7 linked regions of the Homo sapiens genome follow. The protein of the gene in region 7 interacts with the protein of the main gene of each other region in a biochemical or structural test. Each region holds a gene or a part of one and is shown on either strand. Other genes may lie near its edges.

Region 1 (2,334 bases), on a different chromosome or scaffold from region 7:
ATCTTATCCCGAGGGACCAACAGCAGGCATACCTTTGCCAGGCCTTCTTGCAGAAAGACACAGAGCCGTAAAGGCAAAAATAAAATTGCAATAAAGTATATGGTATTGGGGGCAGGGAGAACCAGAAACCCTCAAAGAGAACCAATTTGTAGCACGTTCTTTTTTAAGGCTCTACCCCTGTAGAAGTAAGAAACTAGCCTGCCTTTTTAGCCATATGAGAGTTTCCTCCAGAGCCATCTTCCAAAGTGGCAGACTTGGCCAAGTTGCCCAATGCCAAATAAGTGAGTTGGAAGTTCGTTTGCTTCAAACACACTGCACTTAGAAACCAGACTTGAAATAATCGAAGCCCCACAGAAAAGCTTCATGAAACGAAGTGTTACTTTCCTAGAGAATAAGAAAGTCACAAGATTGAGGAGTCTGTTCTAAAGTTCTTTGCTCCTTGATGTCGAAGTTAACACAAACACAATCTTAGCTTAACGAAACTAAGTAATTTTTGTTTATGATTATAGAACTGCAGGATTCACAAGTAGTATTAGAGACATTCCACACTGCACACTCCAGTCATATCTCTTAACAAAATGACATAAATTGACAATGTTCACTAACAGTATTTGCTGTTACACTGAAAAGGCACATCAATGTTGTCATGCTTAGAAAAATACACAACACTGCACACTGGATGATATAGTTAGCACATACATTTTTAGATGTTCCATTTTTCTTTTCTGCCTGATCACTATTATTTTTACTTCTTAATATATGATTCAAGACATAATTTCATTCTTCATTTTCATTTAAAATTTGTCTTCACATTGATGTGAACAACTTTCAGGAGTCTAAAAAATAGTAGTTTCAGACAACCTAAAATAAATATATTCCTAGAAAACACTTGGATGACCTGCAAACAGATCAAAGATATAGTCAGATATTAAAGTCAGAGCAGCTGTTTTCAGCTTCTTGTTTCCTTTTCTAAAACTTGAAGTAGATGGCGATTAACCTTATCATGTTTAAACAACCTTGACAGTATAAGGTACATGTACCCTCAATTTTCTTCATCCAGTAAGACAAGTATGCATCTTAAAGGGAAAGCTTTTAGTTCATAACAATATGTTTGGTTGCTTTTCTCTGCTTTCGGAACATTTACTGTTTTTCCTTTATTGGCTTTAGTGTTTGCTGCCAACCAGATAACATGTTAACATATAATTTACAACTCTCTCTAGGTAGGTGATTACATAGAAAACTAATGCCAGCTAAGATTTATGGATTCAAAAGATAACTGACACAAGTTCTTGTCCTCTACACTTGAGAGAACTAGCTGTTTAACGCATAAATATATTGATAGTAACTACAAGTTAAATAACATTCAGTGTCACTATATAACATGCTGTCTTACTTGATTCTGTTTTTCAGACTTCATTCTAGTTTCTCTTTGTTGGAAGAGTCTCAGAGATAATGTGTGCTTTAATTTTAAACACTCATTACCAATATGATTTTTGCCCAAATGTTTGTTAATGTAAGTTAAAAAATTATATTTGGTTTGGATTCAAATATTTATAGATTTACACAATACCTATTTCATCAAAATATATTGTATGATATTTAATAAAATTAAATACATAAAATAAAGTTTCAACACTATTTATACAAACCCCTAGAAAAGCTTCTTTTTCTTTATAAGGCTGTTGGCAATCGACCATAACCATGGAAAGGAAATAATAACCTTTGGTTTTACTCTTTCACCAGGGATGGATGGTATGACTAAGACAGTTCTGGATGAGTTGTGTCACTGGAAACACTGTTTTATACAATTAAACACTTTGATGATTTTTGAGGATCTCATCTCAGTCACTTTCAGATTCTTCATCTTCACCTATCGGATATGACTGGATATTATTCTGAGTGTACATTTTTGTTTTAATAGGGCAGTTGTGATCCATGAGAATAGCCTAAAAGAGAGCAAAGTGCAAGTATATTAACTTCTTGTTTCATAAAGATAAGATGGTTTTAACCTACTGTTTTTAAGGATTATTAGTTTGAAAACTATGTAGTATTACTTGCTATTAACCAGTCATTTGGAGCAATCGCCAGACGCCTGACCTAAAAGACCTGTAGTTCTACACTCTAAAAATTCCAGGCAATTGGAGACAGAAGTGGTCTCTGCAGTATTTTCATTATACCTGTCAGGGGCCATAAGTCCACTCTGGGAACTTATACTCTATGAAGCAAGGGACAGGCAGGTTAGGTTTGTTATACTTAGAATCTTGGAATTGGGGTATGGGGATCCTGGAGGTCACCCAGTCCAACTTCTGTTTACAGACGTCATTGTAGCAACAC
Region 2 (3,500 bases), on a different chromosome or scaffold from region 7:
GCACTCACATGCTCAGATCTGTCAGGGTATCAGCAGCGAAGATGAAGGGTTTGTACACATCATGGGTGAGCTGAAACACACTGCCAGGTAGTGGAGGAGCATCACTCAGCCTGGGCGTGCCCACCCACAGCCCAGAGAGGCTGGATTCTGGGCGCCCCAGCCACTTGCCACACCTCCCACTGCTACCCCATCACCCTTCCTCTCCCTTTCTGTCTCCATCCCCCAGCCCATCACACCCCAAGACTTAACTATTTCTTCTTCTGATCATGTCCACTTTCCAGACTATAGTTGGAGACATTGATGAGGCCCTCAGCCTTCTCATCCTGGGGGGATCACAGCATGAGGGTCAGGTTGGAACCCCAATACCCTCAAGGCCCAGTCAGCTCCTAGTTACCCCTCGGGCTCCTGAGAGTTGTGGAGAGGAGAAGGCATCTCCTGGGCTCTCTAACAAGTCTCTCTGTTTCTGGAGCTCAGGGCTGGAATCTGGGGTCAGGGTAGGAGATGTGGCCAAAGGATGCCTCTAAGCCAGGAAAGGGGAGCCAAAGATATCAGAGAAACAGCCAAAAAAAAAAAAAAGAGGAGCCTGAAGGCCGGGCATGGTGGCTCATGCCTGTAATCCCAGCACTTTGGGAGGCCAAGGCAGGAGGACCATTTGAGCCTAGGAGTTTGAGACCAGACTGGGAAAAAAGCCCATTTCTACAAAAAATTAAAAACTTAGGTCGGGTGTGGTGGCTCACACCTGTAATCCCAGCACTTTGGGAGGCTGAGGCGGGCAGATCATGAGGTCAGGAGTTCGAGACCAGCCTGGCCAACATGGTGAAACCCCATCTCTACTAAAAATACAAAAAATTAGCCAGGCATGGTGGCAGGTGCCTGTAATCCCAGCTACTCGGGAGGCTGAAGTAGGAGAATTGCTCGAACCTGGGAGGAAAAGGTTGCCATGAGCTGCGATTGCGCCACTGCACTCCAGCCTGGGCAACAGAGCGAGACTGCGTCTCAAACAAAACAAAACAAACAAAAAACTTAGCTAGGCATGGTGGCATGTGCCTGTAGTCCCAGCTACTCAGGAGGCTGAGGCAGGAGGATCGCTTGAACCTGGGAGGCTGAGGCTGTAGTGAGCTGAGATCATGCCACTGCCCTCCAGCCTGGGTGACAAAGCAAGACTCTGTCTCAAAAACAAAAACCAAAAAACCAAACAAGAAGAGCTTGCTCATGCATTTGTTCCTTCAGTAGACACAAACCAAACTGCTTCACACCCCTGAGCTTTCTGAATGCTGCTTTCTCTTCCTGGTTTTCTTTCCCCTTCCCATGCAACTAACTGCCAGGTATTGCATTGTCAGGGGGCATCTGGACTCCTCAGGATGGACTGGACACCTCTGCTGTGCTCCCACATATCCCTTGGGCTTTCCCTTTATCTTAGCACACGGTCCCTACATTGTCCTTGAGTGTGTATTCATCCCTCTCCCCTACTAGCCTCTAAGTTCTGGAGAAGCAAAAATCATCCAATTCTTCTCTGTGTCCATAGTGCCCAGCCTAGAGCTGGGTTCACAGTAGGCACCTGAATCCTGAATGAATAAATGAGTAAATGAATGGCCCATCATTCGGATGGACAGAATATCAGAAGGATAAGGAGAAGTGGGCAGAATAGACGTGATTTTTCGGCCAGATGTGGTGGCTCACGCCTATAATCCCAGCATTCTGGCGGGCTGAAGCAGGCAGAACGCTTGAGCCCAGGAGTTTGAGACAAGGCTGGGCAACATAGCAAGACTCCATCTTGCTATGTTGCCCAGATTTTTCAGGGCCGGGTGTGGTGGCTCACGCCTGTAATCCCAGCACTTTGGGAGGCCGAGGCAGGTGGATCACGAGGTCAGGAGATCGAGACCATCCTGGCTAACACGGTGAAACCCTGTCTCTACTAAAAACACAAAAAATATGCTGGGCGTTGTGGCGGGCGCCTGTAGTTCCAGCTGCTCGGGAGGCTGAGGCAGGAGAATGGCGTGAACCCGGAAGGTAGAGCTTGCAGTGAGCCGAGATGATGCCACTGCACTCCGGCCTGGGCAACAGAGTGAGACTTTGTCTCCAAAAAAAAAAAAAAAAAGATTTTTCTCTATACCTCCTATGATACCTTTTCCAAACTGCTTTTATACATATATTAACTCATTTCTCTCTGAATAAAGTCCCCATTTTACAGATGGGGACATCAAAGCCTTGGACCAGGAATAAGAGTGGATGATAGAATAGAGATGAGAATCGAGGCCTGGAAGTGACTCACTTGCCTACCTGTTTTTGTGTATGGGGTCTTACCTGGGGCTGGCGGTACCAGTAGAGCGTGTGTCCCTTGAGCACAAACCAGCGGCGGCGCCAGCGCGGGCCCATGAAGCCGCCCGGTGCCTTTCGCAACAGGAGCCAGCCGTCACAGTCCGGCCGGCCCAGCTCACGGCATGACACCCGCCGGCGGCTCAGCCGGGTCGCCAGGCCTGTAGCAGCACAGCACAAGCTGGGCAGTGAGGGGCTGGCAAGGTGCCCCCGCTAAACCTACTCCCTGCCTTCCACAAGCATCCCCAAGTGAGATCTCTGAACCCACACTCTGCTCAGAATGCTACATGTGTCATCTCTGAGGTGGGATGACCCTTCTTATTTTAGAGATGAGCAAACTGAAGACTAGAGGCTAACCTGTTTGCTCAGTCACAGCAAACAGGTTAGCCTCTAGTCTGGTGAGAGGCCCAGACTGGGAGCACAGCTCTGTCTGACCCTAGAAACAGAGCTGTTTCCAGGAGAGGCTGTGTGGGAAGGATGGGGGTGGTCTTGCCCAGCATGTAAAGATTTTTAACAGCTCCTCAAACAGGGGAACCCCCACCTAGTCCAGCGCACCTCATACCTTTTGATTTCTTCCGACCAACAGGACTCTGAAAGGACAGCAGAAGGGTGAGAGAAGGATCTAGGTCCAGACCCACCCACCCCCTTGCTAAGCCCCTGAGCTTACCTTGTCAGGGGATTCAGGGAGCCCTGGAGTCCCTGCTACCCCTGCTGGGAGTATGGCTGGGGGTTCCGGGGGGATGGGCAGGGGCTCAGGGCCAAGGGAGGCAGAGTCTGTCAGGGAGGGAGGAGAGAGAGGGAAAGTCTATGAGCCCAGTCCCAGGCTTGGGGTCAGAACTGGGTGCCCAGATGCCGTGTCCGGGGCATCCATGGAGCTTTGAGACTACCTGTCCAGGCAGGGCTGGGTCCGGGACTGGGGTTTGAAGACAGGTCAAAGGCAAAGACGTCTTCAGATGGGGCCCTGGGGAGGGCAAGGGGGATGAGATGAGCCCACGGTCTCCCCACCAAGACACACCTGGACAGAGCCTGTTACCTGGGAGACAGTGGGGCCAGAGACAGTGATGGGCTCCTCTGGTGCGGGGAGTCCAGGACCTGAGGGGGCGTCTGGGGAACAACCAGGAACAAAGCAATGGAGACAGGGGTCTGAAAGCAGGTTGGGGGGCAACAGGGGTAGGGGAGCAGCA
Region 3 (3,500 bases), on a different chromosome or scaffold from region 7:
AGATTTGTTTCCCTAGAATTACACACAGACACTAGCACATTCTTTCAAGGAAGAAAATGCACTGGAAATCCTTAATTGTGGCTTTCAATTCACTACTCACCATCTGTCTGTTTCTTAATTTTCAAGGTGACAGTCTCTCCTGCCATCTGTAACAAATGGATGGCTTCACTCAGAGGCTTCCCTTTCAAGCTGCTGCTATTGATGGCTAGGATTCGGTCTCCTATGTGGATTGCGCCAGTTCTGAAAAGCCAAATAGTAATAGGAGAGGTAGAAATAATCCCTGTATGGTACTGAATATAAATTCCCTGACATACCTTATACATTCATCATAATAAAGACTTGGTAAGGATCTCCAGAAGTCCCTTCTTGCTTTCTCCTGGGCAATGTTATAAGATAACTGCATCTGTTGTGGATTACTTTTTAGTTTCCAATAAAATTTTAAAAATTGTTTTAATTAGTTATTAAAATGAACTGTGTTTTTTAATTCCAAGAAAGCTGAGTCATTGGTTAAGCACCCTAAAAATCCCAAGAAAATGAACAATGTTGAATGACAAATGTAGTGGATAGCATGGAGCATCCTTTCTTTCTACAGATTTTTTTTTTTTTTTTTTTTTTTTTTTGAGACAGAGCCTCACTGTGTCACCCAGGCTGGAGTCCAGTGGCACGATCTTGGCTCACTGCAACCTCCGCATCCCGGGTTCAAGCAATTCTCCAGCCTCAGCCTCCCAAGTAGCTGGGATTACAGGCAAGCACCACCATCCCCAGCTAATTTTTCTATTTTTAGTAGAGATGAGGTTTCCCCATTGGCCAGGCTGGTCTTGAACTGACCTCGTGATCCATCTACCTCGGCCTCCCAAAGTTCTGGGATTACAGGTGTGAGCCACCGCACCTGGCCTGTATGAGCTAATTTCTAAGGTACACTGCAGCTCCAACATTTTGCAATGCTGTGTCTCTATTTTGCTAGCCACTGTTTTCAACTGTTAGCAGGAACAATGCATTTGTGTATTCCTGAGCTAGGTTACTGGAGGGCAGATTTGCTTATAGGGTTTGTTATATGTCCAACAACACATCTCAGAAAGAAATGCAGTTTAGCGGAGGGTGGGGAGTGGGTGTGTGTGTACATCATTGCCAAAGGAAAAAATGGACATTCCAGCTTTTAAGACATTATTAAAATGGGTTATACACTTTGTTTCCCATAATCCTTGAAGATGATGTCTGTATCATCCTTTTCTGAAAACACAGCAGCTAAGTGTGGCACCTGTCAGGTAACAGAGGCTCAGCAAGTGTTTGCTGAATGAAATTGGACAAGCTGTTCAACCTCCCTGAACTTTAGTTTCCTCCTCTCAAAATGGACACAATACAAATCCGCCTTCAGTCAATTGTGGTCAGCTTATACATTTCAGAGAGTAGTATCAATGCTAAGCCCAAGACGTCTTTTACTGCCTGTAAGATGCCCCTCAGAGTCAAGTCGGAACTCTGCCTGAGAGTTCTCAGGCTCTAAGATCAATCCTTTGTGCAGATTTTTAAAAGCCAACAGATAACCACAGAGAGAGGAGCATGTTTTTATGTGGTTGTGAGGAAGGAAGCCCGTCTCAGACACAGGTAATTATAACAGTTACTTCAAATTTTACCTTTCAGCTAATCCCCCTTTAGTGAGGCTTGAAATGATTATAGGATCAAACGGCTCTTCAGTTCCTGAAATTGTGATGCCAAGGGGCCCCCCGTAGCGTTTAAGCTCCACGGTGTAAATAATTGCTCCGGAACTTTCTTGCTCATCTGTAATAAATGCCAAGGAATCATAATTGATTTCTTTGGAAAAAGCAAAAGAGTAAGATGCATAGATTCATACATAAAAGAATTCAAAACATCCTCGTCAAAGTATCATGTCACAGAAAATAATTATTTTGGGAAGTAGCATTTCCTTAGTAGGATCTTACATTCAAATACAGGGATATAATCATTGTCAGTGCCAGGGGAGAGGAACACTGCCTAATGACTTATGTTTTAAATGTGTGAGATCCGCCCAGCTGGGGCTGCAGGACCTTTCAACTGTGTCCATGTCTAGGACAGTGCTTACCTAGCATTTAGTAAGTATGCAGTAAATATCTGTGAAATAAACATATGGCTGAGGAGGCATTATAATATGAGAGGAGAGAGTCACTCAGTAACAAAGAAGACAGACATTGGGTCACGCTGTTTCCGTTTTAAGCTTTACATGCATGCTAACTTTTGATATAGAAAAGTGGATTTTGCGAAGGGTTGGAACAAATAACATATATATGGTTAAGTGGAACTTAGATAAGTAAACTTGAAGACAACAGCAAGAAATCTAGAATCTCTTAGATATCATTCCACTGACTGTCTTCTAATGTGAGTCCTATCAGTGAATTACGGATATTAAAGTGGAGGTTTGAATGATCATCTCTCCTCTTTCAATGGAGTAACAGCTGTTGTAAGCTATGTTTCAACAGCATAGACCAGCCTGCCACACTGTCATAAACTAATTTTGGCTATTCAACATTATTATAGTTGAAGACACTTGTGAATGTGCTCTGCCTAAAGCACTGGCCAGAAAGATATCATGGGCCGCCTTCAACGTGATGGGTATTGTGATGGTGTCAGAGTTGCAAATAAGAAGTCTCAGAATTCAAAGGTTTTATTTGCTTCTGACATGCTTAAAGTTCTTGGGCACTTCTTGTTTTATTCCTTGGGCCTGGGAGCTGTGAATGGTTAAGGAACTGTTTCATTTCTGCAACTAAGGATAAAATGAAATGGTTCAGTGGCTACTTTAGCAAAATAGTCAGCTTTTACAGTCAGACTACATCCTAGTGAAGCATTAACATGGCCACATTTTTGCAGTGAGCAGCTGTTCGTTTACGATATGAAATCCTAAAATAAGGAGGAAAACCAAAGCTTGAGTTAACAATTCAATTATTTGTGTTTGCAGTGAAGAATTATGATGAATATAAAATGAAAGGTCTATCAAGTCATTTGGGAAGCAATGTGTCCTCTCTCGCCAGCACTTACTTCACTTCTGGCCATAGATTGGGAGTTTTGAATGCAGCCATTACCTCCACTTTCTGAGTGCTCTACTCAACGTATTTACTCCACACATTCAGAACTAAAGACCATCCACCACACACTGCAATGCTTAAGTCAACATTTTAGGGCACAAAATCTTCAACATTGGGCTCAAATTTACATTAGCAGCTGAGAAGCTCCCATATCAAGCCTAAAACAGCTCTGTTTGCTGGTTCACAAGTTTCTTCTGGGCTGATGCTGAAGTTGTGGCCAATAGGCTGGTGATGATCTGCTAAGGGCTCCAGAGAGAAACATCAAGATAGAGGGTAACCAAATAATCAGCAGAGGTCAAAAGTCTAAATTTTCCTACAGTACGATATTTTGTCACCTTTCAGAGCTGGCTTTGACCTAAATGAACAGAGTACTATTGGATAGATTACATGTACTTTGCAGCCCTCATCATCAACAATATCCTGGAT
Region 4 (3,500 bases), on a different chromosome or scaffold from region 7:
ATACCAACCTAGCTGATCAGTCTGGGACTTAAGGGAAGACTGAAGCAACTAAGCACAAACTGCTGAGCATATCGCAGAGGTTTTGTTATCATCTTCAATGTTTTCTTTCCTTAATAGTACTCAACACACTGAAAAACTACCCCCAAACAGCCACACACTGAATAAAAGTCATAGGCTCCATCATTCTCTAATCCTAACTTCATTTTTTCTTTGCACATAACATGACACTACCGGTGCCACTTTCTTCCTTGGAAGTCTAGAAAATGTGAAAATTGCCCACCTGAATTTCAAATCCAAATGTTTCATTATCCTGCTTCTCCACAGTAACAAGCTTTCTGTAATAAAAATGTTTAAAAAAGAAACTGCATGAAAATTAAAGTATCACATTTGGCACAGATCTATCATTAAAAATAACTGTCACAATTAAAAATAACTGACATTTATGTAAATTGTAGTATGTAAGATTCTGTGTGTGTGTCTGTGTGTGTGCGTCTGTGTGTGTGCGTAGAGAGAGAGAGAGAGAGAGAGGAAGAGAGAGGAAAAAACAGTCTGGAGAGCTATGTTCCTAAATATTTTGGGAGAGACAAAAAATAATTCAATCTCTTTACCTTTGAGACCAGGAAAAGTCACTTAAAGAACTTGATCTGGTCAAAGCAAGCTGAAAAACACAAAAGACATATAGTTATCCCAGGGTCTTCAAGATACACTGTAAAATGTTCTAAATCTCTCTCTCTCTCTCTCTCTCTCTCTCTCTCTCTCTCACACACACACACACACACACACACACACACACACACACACACACACACAACCTGTTCTTTACCACCTTCTTTGGCCCAGCTCCTGGGAAATTGTTGCATAAAGGCAGCCATTTCCATTCTCTACATTCTCTAGTGATAGCAGAGGAGAGTAGGGAGACAGGATTCTAGGCATTCCAGTTAAAAGATTGAAAGAGGTTTAGATAGTAATACAATGTGGCAAAAGAGTTAAAATAATGTGGCAAAACTCCAAAGCTTCCAAAGAGAACTTCCTCTCTGGTCTGTATTTAAAACAGCCTCTGAAAGATTAACCATAGCAATTTGTAATCACACTGAAATCCAAAGAAAAATAGCATACTTAGAATGGCATATGAAACCCAAATACTTTATAGTTTTTGGAGATGATGATGAAATGACAGTGTTTACTATAATAATTCAATACGTTACTGTTTTTAGTAGGATAAAATAATCTCTAAACAACCAACTCACACACACAATTCAGGTAAAACCAGGAACTCAAAACCTCATTTCTGCTTATGATTTATTTTTGTAATAGTTTTGGAAGACTAACGTGAAATTTCCAGCCAAGAAAGGAAAGAAACCTCAGAATAGTATCAATGGTATAAATAATATCACCTTCATTCCTCTGCACTTTTGGAAAAGATCATATAAACATAAGCTTTCAGGACACATTCTACCACTGTAAACAGAAGCAGCATCAACAAAAGGTGACAACTTATTTTTTAGGAAAATTGCAGCAGGTTTTTGTGTTTTTTTGGTCGGTTTGTTTCTTTGTTCAGGAAATGTTTATTAGCCCTATTCTCAAATGTTGCTTCAAGGGCCCAAAACATAAGCTACTAGCTAACCCATGGTTTTTAATTGTCAACCTGAAATGGTTGTCATATATAAATGAACACATAAAATATCAAGAGATCAATGCATAGTCAGTCCAGACAAAGCAAAATAAAATAAGTAAAGGATGAAAACTAGAAGGGGGAAAATATGTAGGAGATATTAATGCTTATGTGACAAGTTACACAAATGAAATGCTTATTAAGACATTCATTAGGAGTGAAGCCTACATCACTGTAGGAATTTTGAATTACCAGGTACCAAATGCCAGCATTTTCACAAATTTCCTGGAATGGACCAGTGTTAAGAATTCAGCCACCAGTCCATAAACTTAACGTAATGGAGAGGTGGTCTCTTCTTACCAATTTGCTGTAAATTAATTATATTTTCCTCTTTTGTTAGTTCTGGGCTTCAACTCACTTATATCGCAATGGAGACTGAAATAAATTGCTCAGACCCAAAAAGATTCTCTAGTCTTGCTAAAAAGTATCTCTTTTCAATTTATAAGCACTAACTGTGGAATGCCTACAAGGATTGGTATGGTTTGTTGTAACCTGATTTTGTACCTCGTATGTACCGTTACCAAGGATAGGGACTATTCATCTATGTTAGTGGGCTTCCTTGCAGAAGAGAGCCACAAACTTGATATTTCCAAGCATTCTCAGTCTCTCCCTTATATTGTACTCATATTTTCTTAATCTATTTTTATTATCTTCAGCTGCTTGTTTTCCGCCCTTAAGCCAAATTACGTAATGATAACTAGGGCTTTTTTATTCTTTTTATAAAAGTTTCTTATACCTCTATAAATAAGGGCTTATATTTTTAAGGTATTACTCTTGCTATCAGTATTCATCATATTATTCATATATCCATATAGAGAGAGCTATATATATATGTATACATATATGTATATATTTATATGAAATGCATACTGGATCAAATACTTCACATCTGTACATAATCATCTGTGTGATTTGGACCTCTTGGGGAATGTTATTTGTTTTACTTTCTGCCCCAATGCCCAACACAGGGCCTGGAATAGAATGGAAACTTAAAAATGGAGAAATAGATAAAAATAAATAAACTACTAAACGAAAATGGAAGCAACTGAGATGGTTGAAGAGCCACATTAAATATTCACGTTCAGGAGAAATATGTAAAGATAGTCTTCAACATTGTCCTTTATTAAATTCAATATCATAGGAAAAACTCAAGGATAATCACTAAAATACATAAAGTAAAATTTAAAAATCTTAAATATGTAGCAAGATTTAAAAATGAAAGAAAACAGACAACTGTATATCCATATGCAGAAGAAAGAAACTAGACCATACCTCTCACTCTATACAGAAATCAACTGAAAATAAGTAAATGGATCAAAACCTTCATGTAAAACCTGAGACAATAAAACTACTGGAATAAAACATAGGGGAAAGGCTTTAGCATATTGGATTGGGAAAAAATTTTATGAATAAGACCTTCAAAAAACAGGCAACAAAAGCAAAAATAAACTAATGGGGTTATATTAAACTAAAAAGATTCTGCACAGCAAACAATTAACAGAGTGAAAAGACTACCTGTGGAATGGAAGGAAATATTTGCAAACTACTCATTTATATATCCAGAATATATAATGAACTAAAATACCTCAACAGAAAAAAAAAAATTTAAAAATGGGCAAATGATCTGAACAGACGTTCCTCAAAGGAAGCTATACAAGACTGGGCATGGTGGCTCACACCTGTAATCCCAGCACTTTGGGAGGCCAAGGAGGGTGGATCAACTGAGCTCAGGAGTTCAAGATCAGCCTGGCCAACATGGTAAAACCCCGTCTCTACAAAAATACAAAAATTAGCCAGGCATGATGGCAGGTGCCTGTAATCCCAGATA
Region 5 (3,130 bases), on a different chromosome or scaffold from region 7:
ATGCACAGGAAGTGCAGATCACAGTCCTCTCTGGAGGAAAAGACTAATGCCAGTTCTTCCCAAGTGAGTCCCTAGATTCAGGGCAACCTGGTCACAGTTCAGAGGTTTGCTTTTCCAGAGCCTGAGGCATGCAGTCTCAACTTCTGACAACTGGAAATGTAGAGGAATAGCTTTGACAGGTTTGTAAATGACCAACAAGGAGGAGAGATTGGCTATTAAACTCCAACACAGTAGTAATTATACATTAACAGGGAAATAGATCAGATGACCAGAATCCAGTAACAAAGATTCGTACAAAATTAGGAAAAGTTCCTACCAATCATTAAGAAGAAGTTAAATAAGCCTTGGAAAAAAATCATGAAGGGTTTGGGGTAACTTACACAAGAACTGCTCTTTTGAGAGTGAGGACCACTCTGTTCCCTTAGTGCTAGGCACCCAGCAAACACACCATAAATGCTCAAAAACTGAATGTTCATCACTGGTAATCAGAGAAATGCAAATTAAAACAAACGCATATGACATTTTACTTAACAGACTGGCAAAAATGAAAAAAGAAACATAATATCCTGAGCTGGCAGGAGCACAAGGAAATGGGTCTCGTGCTGATGATGAATGTGAATTGATAACAGTTTTTTTGTGATTTGCGATAGCACAAAATTGAAAACAGCACAAATGTACGTTACTCTGGGCTCGCTAAATAGGCACTAAATAAAACGAGTCAGTTTCTTCTCCCGAGCAAGTAAACTAGAGGGTAGATCCACGCGACCCGGAGTCTAGGACACATCCTCGGGAGTGAACAGCCACAATTCACAGACGATGTGTGCAGCCGGGGCATGAAAGGCCCAAGGCAAACACACCACGAGGTAAACGCCGGGACTCTGAGGAGAGGGGTGGAAGCCGGGACTTCGAGGAGGGGTGGAATTGACTTAGAGACAGGAGGGAGCCTCTTGGAGGGCAAAGCTGCCCTGGGCAAGTGTTCTTTTCTTTCTAAACCTTCCTTCTGGTCTCTGTCTGGAAATTTAAGCGCGCCCCCTGGTGGGGGAGAGAGGAAGGGGAAGAAAAGGGGGTCTCGGAGGAGAATAAAGTGCTCGTGGGTGGAAGAAACCTGGAACAGAAAATGCCAGAAAAACCTGGAACAGAAGTGCAGACGGCCCGCGGCGGCCCCGGTGATCTCCACACTCAATCACCCTCTCCAGGGGAGCGATCGCTCCTGAGGCTGCCAGCACCCCACCACCACCCCCAACCCGCTAGTGCCGATGACGGCCACAGAGGCCTTTCTCGCCCCCAGCTCACCTTTGCACACACAGTTCCCCCGTGCAGAGTTTGTGCCTCCCTCATCTCTTAGTTCTCAGCTAAGACTTTCCCTGACCCCACCCAGGTCATACCTCCTGTCGTCGCGCCGCACGCAGCATCCCAGACCTCACCTTCGTATTACTAGAGCTGGCCCGTTGTGATTCAGGTCTGCCTTCCACCCAGGCTGTGGCCCCCTTCAGGGCAGCATGGTACCCGTCCTGCTCACTACTGCACCCAGAGCCTAGGACATGCCTGGCACCTAAGCAGATACTACTGTACTCGGGAGCCATGCATGGCCTGCGCAGGAGGGTGGCAGGCCAGGTGACAGGTTCAAGGTGGAGCAGAGGAGCTTTATTAGAGGGACAGGGTGAAACATATTTACACCGGCCGAGCAGGGACCTTAAGAAGCAGGCGTGGGAGCAGGGTCCCAGCTCAGACGAGTTCCACCTTGGCATTGGGGTACACCGCCACCACGTCGTAGCCCTCGGGCGGCTTCACGCGCGCCTTGGCGTGGCTCTCACAGTAGAGCCGCTCGTCCAGAAAGAAGTAACCACGCTGCTTGAGGTTCAGGCCGCAGTCACTGCACATGAAGCACTCGGGATGGTAGAGCTTGTCCCGTGCCTTGACGATGGTGCCCCTGATGGGGGGAACGAGACAGGACAGCGTCGAGTGACTGATGGGTTCACGACTGCGCCCGCATCCAGGGCCCTGGAAGGCTAGGGTCCGGGAGGGGCAGCGGGGGCGGTTACTCACACGATGCCGTGGCCGCAGCGCGTGCACTCGGGCAGCCCCTGCAGGCCGCTCAGCGGAGCGCCCAGCTTGCTGGCCGTGGGCTTGAGGTTCCGGGGGCCGCCAGGCCCGGGCCAATCCCCTGAAACCCGGAGCGTAGGTGGCATGAACGGGGTGAGGAGGTCAGAACTCCATTTCTGCGGGGTGTTTGGTTGGGCGCCAGACGGGCCATCGGCACCCGAGACTGGGGAACGGGTTTGGCGGGCGTGGGGTGAGGGGCAGCGACAGGGGGTGGAGAGGGAATCGGGAAGCCAGGGCGTAGCAAGGTTGTAGCAAGGGCGTGGGACCGGGCCGCAGAGACCGAAGAGGGCAGGTGACTGCGAGGCGGGACGTGGGGTCGCTAGGGGGCAACCTGGGCACTGCAGGGAGTGGGAAGGCAGATGGGGACAGGTGGCAGGCGTCTTACCGCCCTCGCCGGCCTCTAGCATGCCCTGCAAGTAGCGGAAGGAGCCTGACTGCTTGGGCTCCGCGGCCACGGGCTCGGCTGGCTCCCGCAGCATCCTGTACACCTCGGAGCCCAGGTCGACTCTGCAGTCCCGGCTCCGCGGGAGGCCTCTGGCTGGGTCAGCGCTGGGAGGGAGAAAGAAATAGAGGAGGAAGGGATGCAGTTCCAGCCTTCACCCTGTGGACTTGGGGTCTGGTAAGGCTTATGAGTCAGAATGCAACCAGCTAAGACCCAAGGATCAAGTGTCAGGGGTCAGAGTGGGACTGGGTGAGATTTGAGGGATCAAGGGTTAAGATGGGTTCTGGGCATGGCACCGAAGGCATCTCTGTGCTACCTGGGGGGTGGAGACACATGCAGGGTGCTCATCTGGGCTGGCAGGGTGGCCTCGCTGCTGCCATTGTGAGGGACTGGAAAGCGAGGGGGTTGTCCATATGGAGATCCCAGGCTTGGTCTGCCATCTTCTGGCCCAGTCCCGGTGCCTGAGGGCCGCCTGCTGGTTGTTGGGCTGCCGTCCTATTAGAGAGAGGCCTAAGGCACTGGGAGACCCTCTGGCCTCCAGCCATTCCTTGTTCACCCCACCCCCACCCTGCTGTGCTGTGCCAG
Region 6 (3,500 bases), on a different chromosome or scaffold from region 7:
ACATATCAACAGTTATTAATCTAAGAAGAAACAGCAATCTTCTCAAAGACAGATGAAAGTTAATATGTAAATATGACTGCTAAAAGTTTTTAAATCAATGTAAATCTTTGAATAGGAAATTCACTACATGAAGAAAGAAAAAAACTTCTGTTAAGACCCACAGTACCTCAAAACTCAAGTATTATTGTGCAATAATGACATCCAAATTTTAAGGGTAGGAGGTATGAGCAAGGGAAACAAAAATGTCCAGGGAGATGGAAAAGAACAGTGAAATGAGAGGTATCTCTAGATAGAGGTAATGGAACCTCCCAAAATCATAATTATTCAAAGCAGTTTACTAAGAGGATAAACCATAAACCAAATTATCTTTGCCTAGTTCACTTCTAATTCACCTAAATCTTACCATGTATATTTCCTTCACCACCCCCCACTCCCAAACAAGGCAAATTACTCAGTGAAGACTCCATCTCAGATCATGGCTACCAAATCTGGGGATCATATTATGCTTAAAGGTACTAAATTAATGATGCATTTATAAATTACTCTGATGATTCACAGAATTTAAATTCTCATTTCTTTGGCAGCTTTCTTGACAGACAGTCTTACATGCTCAATACAAAGCAGAAAAGTGTTTATATGTCACTAGAATCAAGACGCAAGAAGCCAACACGTGCCCAGGAAAAACTGGGGAGATAATGATACATTTGTAATGAATCACAACATTTTTACAATAATGATTTCTACCTAAGCTTTTTTAAAAAGTTACTTCTTAAGATATTAGTTTCCATTTCAGTTAAAATATTGTTAAGGCAAATGCTTGCTCATTATGGGAAGAATAAAGAGATCTGTAAAGGTGAAAAATCTAGAAAAGAGCACATTAATCTGATACATCACTCAGTATAAAACTGTAATGAAAAGTATAAAATATAAGTGAACAAAAAAGGGTGAATAAAAATGTAGATTAAAGAAACATTAAAGGAGAAATAAAGAAAACACTCCATAGTTATTCCTGTAGCAAAACCTACCATAGTTATTCTCAACATCAAACAAAGCATTCATTTACTTTAGTCTGAAGTCACTTTAGGGTGCTTGGACTATTAATATTTCTGATGTCTTCCATGCTGAACACCTGAATGGCATACTGTCTATATGAAATGTTTGTTATTGCTCTGGGGAGATTTTTCCATATGTCTCTGCTTTCATGAAACTCTAATGACTTGCAATAACATTTATTAAGAAAGAATTCTTAATTACTCTCCTTTTGCAATACTAACTTTTTTGAACTATGAATGCTGACTGTTGTAGGAACCTCAATACTATTAAAATATCAGCAACAACCCCTAAATCTGTAAGCTAAAAGTTCAGGCAATGACCTTTCAAGGAAAGATAAGTAGATATCAATTTTCATTTAACAAAGCCAACAAAACATTCTGCACTGACTGAAACAGATTACTGACCTTCTCCTCTGACTTTATTAAAAAGCTAATTTCTACAAAAGAGCTGGGTATTTGAGAATACCAAAATGGCAATAAATATTAAGAAATCATAATTATGGAAGCAAGTACACTGAGGCTATTCTGTTGTCATGTTATATAACATAGCTCCAAAATTAGGCCAAAGAATAATTATACTGACATCTTTTTTTGTACTAAGAGTTGATTCCAGTTTTTGAAGAACTGCTGCCACTCAAAGCACATTAGCTCACTTTGAACTGAATCTGAAGTTTAACACTGACACACCCTATGTTTTTAATGTACTTCACTAATAAATGTAATAACTTGTAAGAAAAAAATCTGCTAGCTACAAGGAAAGCCTGTTCAATTCTCCTACATTCATTATTATTAAAATATATGCATTTAGTCCTAATCAAAGATAATCAGCATTCTTCCCCACATTTATAGTAAACATAATTTTTATATAAAATATTTGTAAGTATTGGCAGCATGCACAAGCAGCATGTGCTTTTTGTCATACATTCTCACAGTTGGTAAATTAAAATCAAGATAGATCTATGGGACTCTATATCATTAAGATTACTCAAGGTCTGAAAAACACTTAAAACCATTGTTTCTCCTTTCAGTGATTAAGCATAGTCTTTCTAAATTAGCTTGTGTAAATGCAATCATATTTTTCATTAAATGCTATTAAAATAATATCTGTATTCAAAACAATGGTACCAGTTTTGTAAGTAAAATGTATCAATTTGATTTATTTATCACTTCAGACTTACTATAACATAAAAATTAGATATACTCATTATTTTCCTTTTTTTGGAGAATCTGTATTCTGTTTAATACTTTACCTTTATCTTCTCACTTCAGATTTCCTTTGTATTTCTCATTCTTTCATTAGCAAAACAATGGTACTTTTAATGGCAAATCACCTCATTTAAAAAGTTCATGTTATATCATGATTTGTCAAATATCCTAATTTTTGAAAAACCATAATTAACTAAATGAATATTGCTGTATCAGTGTAAAAAGGAAAAGATATTTATGAACCAGTATCTTTATGACAATGGTGAAGCAAAATACTGTACCTTTGTTTAGAGATATCAAGCAGAATTTTATTTTTTATACGATTCTATTTGTAGTTCTTGATATGTTTTTGGTTAAAAACAAGGGCCTGTCATTTAAGTAGAGCAAAAGGAGGAAAGAGGATGTGATATTTCTCTCATTTAGGAATTGACAGAGCTAAAGGGGTTTCTGTTGATATGACTCTGTGTTTGCAACGAGGCAAGCTGTCAACTCCTGATCATGTCAACCAAGTATTTAGAGCTTAAAAACCAGTAACCAGAAATAAGAAACTTGAGGTTCACATAAAGTTCACTGAAAGAATATGAGTTAGAAAGGAAACAGCAGTCTCAGAGTTTACAACCTTGTAAATGCTACCCCAAATGTAAAGAAGAATGGTCTGAATATCCGGATATGGAAAACATACTAGTAAGAATCTGTGGCCAACAGCCACATGACCTGAGGAAATAATGAACCTCTCTTGGAATCATTTCCATCCAACTATAAGAGTTGATGGTTGAGCCTATAAAAAAAAATATTCTTTATAATAATACCATTTTGAAAGACATGATTTAAAAATATATCAAAATGCTCAGCTAAAATGGATCAGGAACAGTAAAAGTGTATCTTGGTGCCTGGACGAAACATTGGGTGAAAATCATAAAGTCAAGTCCAATAGTTTGCACTCAACTTTGAAGGAGGCAAACTGCAAGAACATGCTCTCTATACAGAGATCCACTGTATACAGGAAGGGTACTAAAATACATAATGGATGGAAGATGTATGAAGAATCGGCAATCGACATCATGACTTCCACATCACCATAAGAAAGAGAAGCAGGCCTGGACATGGTGGCTCACTTCCATAATCCCAGCACTTTGGGAAGCCGAGGTAGAAGGACTACTTGAGGCCAGGAGTTCCAGATCAACCTGGGCAACATGGCAAGACTCCAACACAACAAAAAATTTGTAAATGAGATGGGCATGG
Region 7 (3,500 bases):
AGTTTCACTGAACAGCACTGCTCTAGAAAGTCTTGCTCCGGCTCAGAAATGACACAAGTCATTTCTTCTGGTAGAACCTTTCAGACGACAGTTTGGAAATCTGCATTTAAAATAAGAAAAATATTTTAAAATGTTTATGCCCTTGCAGATTTAATGTGTTAGTATCTTTTATTAGGATTATTAACTGTTTTTGTTACTGCTTTAGTTTTCAAAGTTGCATAGGTTTTAACCCTGTTTTTTTTTTCTATAAACCTAGTTATATCTTGAAACTTTTGCGCAATGAAGTTTTGCAGGAAATAATATATCAGGTTATTATAAAAAAAATGCCTGTACTGCCTAATTACTCAATTACTTCTTTGGACTGTGTTCTTAAGAATGAAACTATAGGGTCAAAGGGCATAAACATTTTTAAAGGTTTTTCTTATTTTAAATACAGCTTTCCAAACTGTCACCTGAAAGGTTCTACCACAAGAAATGACTTGTGTCATTTCTGAGCTTGAGCATTTAACTATCACTGCAAGACTTTCTAGAGCAGTATTGTTCAATGAAACTTTCTATGATGATTAAATCTCCTAAATCTGCATTGTCCAATGTGGTAACCATTAACCACATGTAGCTTCTGAGCACTTGAATTGTGGCTAGGGTGGCTGAGAAAATAATTTCAATGTTTTAATATTAATGTAAATAGCAACATGCAGCTCATAACTACTGTATTGGACAGTACCACTCCAATGCTTTTTCACCCTCCCCATAATGGTGGCCATGTTCCATATAGTGGCTGTTCCATCAGTATAAGTCCTAAAGGGAGAATGACACAGAACAAGGTGCTAATGGCCATGCAGCTTGAGTAATAAGCCTTGGTTGTTGTAAGTCACTGAAGTTTTTGAGGTCTGTGTTACCACAGCAAAACCTATTCTAACCTCAGTAAAACAGCAGTTACAAGTTCTACTTAGTGTATGAGAGGACATGTTAACCTACATTGTTGCTCATACTAGCAATCTTTTTATTTACTAGCAATCTTGTTACTCCTTCAATAATATATTTACAAGTCAGGCACTATTCTAGAGTTGAGGATATTTCAGTGGACAAGATATACAAGGTTCCCTTCTTAGAGCTTACAAGCCTAATGGAGGAATGGAGAAACGTTTAACAGATAATTTACACAGTGTGATGAGTGTTGATAGCAGATTATCTCATTGTTATTTAGCTTTTAAAACATTAGTAAGAACATTACATATATATTTTCCTAATTGCCATTTTTTTCATTTCTCAACAGTCTCTTCATAATAGAGCTTTTATCTGTTTCTCATTGATTACTAATAACTCTTAATGCATTAGAAATATTAAATATCTTATACATTTATCTCAGTTTCTAATGTCTTAAGCTCCCTGCCCCTCTCCAACCCACTGTGATATAGAATTCTTTTTTTTTAAATGGAGGTACCCATGGCTTTTTAATGATGGTTTCTAGCTTTGGTGTCTTCTTTAAAGTCCTCTCCACAGCCAACATTAAAGAACTATTTATCTACAATTTTTTCTACTGTTACTTTTTCCCCCAATCTTCAATATATGGGGATTCAAGTGTAAGGATAGAAAACAGCTGTGTTTTTTTCTAAAATGTCCAGATAACATCATTTACTGACTAAACTACCTCTTTTCTCACTAATACAAAAATGTCACCTTTATCACACAACAAATTCCTCTATTTGGGAACTATTTCCTGACTCTCATGTTCTATTTTTCTGCCTATTTTGGCATGAGTATCATCGCTTTAATTACTGTAGCTTTATAAAACTTTTTATCTGCTCAGGAAGATTCCTCCTCCTTTCATCGAGTTTTCCCAGCCATGTTTGATTGAACATGTATCCTCAAAGAGGAACTTCAGATTAATTCTGACATGTTCTAGAATAGATCACATTAAGATTATGTAGAATTTATAGGCTATCAAATTCATTCATTTCTGCTTTCTGTTCTTAGGGCGTCATTTTTTTCAATTTCAGTTGAATATTCAACTTAACTTCATAAAAGTTAAATAATGAAAATGTTTCCTTTGAGTAGTTTTGAACATATCAAATAGGGTTTGACTTGTTATATTCTTATATTTTCTAAATATTTTATAAATGGAATTTGATTTCTCTTTTTAGCCAAAAATTATTCGGAAGTGTTTTAAATTCCTAAAAAGTTTGGAGTTTTTGTTTCCTATTTTATTACAAATTTCTAGATTTACAGCATTGATGTTAAGGAATATCACCTATTAGACTATTCATACTTTTTATAATTCGAAGTTTTTTTGTGTGATCTAAGAATATGGTCAATTTTAATAAATATTATGGTGCAGAGGTACTTGCCTTACTATTTACTCAGATCTTTAACATCCTTACATTTGTCTGTTTGCTCTATTAAGCATTGAGAAAAATACTTTAAAAACCCTCATTTTTATTATGTTTGACAATTTATCCTTTTACTTTCTAAAGTTCCCATTTTGTAAGTTATTTAGCATAAGGTTTCACAACAGTTCTATTTTTATTAATGATTACAGACATCATTTATTTATAAAGTCTGTCCATTCATTCTGACTCTTGCCTTCAACTCAACTTGTAAACTTTTACTTCAGCTAGAAATTCAGGCATTTATATGTTCTAAACAGCATTTATTAACCATTTGTTTAACTTCTGTTGATATAAAGAGACAAATTTAAGTATTATTTACTAAATAATATGTTGCAAGCAGAGGCTTTCTCTTGAGGCTGGCTCTTGTTTCTCACCAAGAACATATCTTAAATTCCCTGAGAAGCTATGCAATAGAGAAGAAAGGGCAAAGAGCCAAAGACCAGCCTTCATTAGCACCCCTCTTTTCTGCTTCATTCCAGTTTCTTCTACCAGTTTCCTAAATCTTGTCACTTTACTCATGCTAAATAAACCGCTTTACACAACCTTACTAAATTTTACTTTCTATTCCCAGATGCTTTACTGCTTAAAGATCCCAATCCAGTTAGAAATATTTCCCAAAGATAACTCCAGTTAAAATATATACTAATACTACTACTAATAATAATACAGTAATTTATACTGTACATGTGGCAAGGGAGAAGACTGCAGGCTGACTGGGAGAGAGAGAAAAAAAGGGGACTTTTTACCATATACTTTTTAAAAATAGTTTTTGATTTTTGATCCATGTGGACTTACGTATTTAAAAATGTAAACACTGTATTAAAAACAAAATTTTAAAACTTAAGAGTACAACTTACCAGTCATATTTTCATCCAGTGGTAGAGAGACTCCTACATCACAGATTTTAATTGTTTCAAAATCGCCTTTAATTACAACATTTGAAGACTTTATGTCTCCATGAAGCAGTTTCTTTTCTTGGTGCAGATACTAAAATAGTAAAAAATTTAACACATATGTGCAGAAACACAAACTAATAAAAAAATGTGATAACCTCCAAATATAACAACTTGAACTCCCTTCCTAAACTCTAGGTTTACATTTGTCCAGCGT

Evidence for each region.
Region 1: the proteins of PBK (region 7) and PDZD8 interact in a test that uses a peptide from one of them, tested with the Homo sapiens proteins (one large-scale study listed by IntAct).
Region 2: the proteins of PBK (region 7) and CNKSR1 interact in a test that uses a peptide from one of them, tested with the Homo sapiens proteins (one large-scale study listed by IntAct).
Region 3: the proteins of PBK (region 7) and GRIP1 interact in a test that uses a peptide from one of them, tested with the Homo sapiens proteins (one large-scale study listed by IntAct).
Region 4: the proteins of PBK (region 7) and CYTIP interact in a test that uses a peptide from one of them, tested with the Homo sapiens proteins (one large-scale study listed by IntAct).
Region 5: the proteins of PBK (region 7) and PDLIM4 interact in a test that uses a peptide from one of them, tested with the Homo sapiens proteins (one large-scale study listed by IntAct).
Region 6: the proteins of PBK (region 7) and PARD3 interact in a test that uses a peptide from one of them, tested with the Homo sapiens proteins (one large-scale study listed by IntAct).

What each region holds. Positions count from the first base shown.
Region 1 is NC_000010.11:117,276,774-117,279,107, reverse strand, and holds the end of PDZD8 (PDZ domain-containing protein 8), read left to right. Parts: 3' UTR 1-1,834; downstream 1,835-2,334. Other genes in the region: SLC18A2 (synaptic vesicular amine transporter), read right to left, coding at 1,842-1,946. UniProt on the Homo sapiens protein: Molecular tethering protein that connects endoplasmic reticulum and mitochondria membranes. PDZD8-dependent endoplasmic reticulum-mitochondria membrane tethering is essential for endoplasmic reticulum-mitochondria Ca(2+) transfer.
Region 2 is NC_000001.11:26,183,991-26,187,490, reverse strand, and holds part of CNKSR1 (connector enhancer of kinase suppressor of ras 1), read right to left. Parts: intron 3,421-3,500; coding exon 3,350-3,420; intron 3,278-3,349; coding exon 3,204-3,277; intron 3,091-3,203; coding exon 2,984-3,090; intron 2,907-2,983; coding exon 2,879-2,906; intron 2,478-2,878; coding exon 2,305-2,477; intron 324-2,304; coding exon 250-323; intron 81-249; coding exon 9-80; intron 1-8. UniProt on the Homo sapiens protein: May function as an adapter protein or regulator of Ras signaling pathways.
Region 3 is NC_000012.12:66,392,577-66,396,076, forward strand, and holds part of GRIP1 (glutamate receptor-interacting protein 1), read right to left. Parts: intron 1,777-3,500; coding exon 1,632-1,776; intron 241-1,631; coding exon 101-240; intron 1-100. UniProt on the Homo sapiens protein: May play a role as a localized scaffold for the assembly of a multiprotein signaling complex and as mediator of the trafficking of its binding partners at specific subcellular location in neurons.
Region 4 is NC_000002.12:157,434,090-157,437,589, forward strand, and holds part of CYTIP (cytohesin-interacting protein), read right to left. Parts: intron 659-3,500; coding exon 609-658; intron 336-608; coding exon 281-335; intron 1-280. UniProt on the Homo sapiens protein: By its binding to cytohesin-1 (CYTH1), it modifies activation of ARFs by CYTH1 and its precise function may be to sequester CYTH1 in the cytoplasm.
Region 5 is NC_000005.10:132,270,825-132,273,954, reverse strand, and holds the end of PDLIM4 (PDZ and LIM domain protein 4), read right to left. Parts: intron 3,041-3,130; coding exon 2,862-3,040; intron 2,653-2,861; coding exon 2,489-2,652; coding exon of another isoform or gene 2,165-2,488; coding exon 2,047-2,164; intron 1,931-2,046; coding exon 1,726-1,930; 3' UTR 501-1,725; downstream 1-500.
Region 6 is NC_000010.11:34,378,297-34,381,796, forward strand, and holds part of PARD3 (partitioning defective 3 homolog), read right to left. Parts: intron 1-3,500. UniProt on the Homo sapiens protein: Adapter protein involved in asymmetrical cell division and cell polarization processes. Seems to play a central role in the formation of epithelial tight junctions. Targets the phosphatase PTEN to cell junctions.
Region 7 is NC_000008.11:27,817,318-27,820,817, forward strand, and holds part of PBK (lymphokine-activated killer T-cell-originated protein kinase), read right to left. Parts: intron 3,378-3,500; coding exon 3,248-3,377; intron 2,344-3,247; exon of another isoform or gene 1-2,343. UniProt on the Homo sapiens protein: Phosphorylates MAP kinase p38. Seems to be active only in mitosis. May also play a role in the activation of lymphoid cells.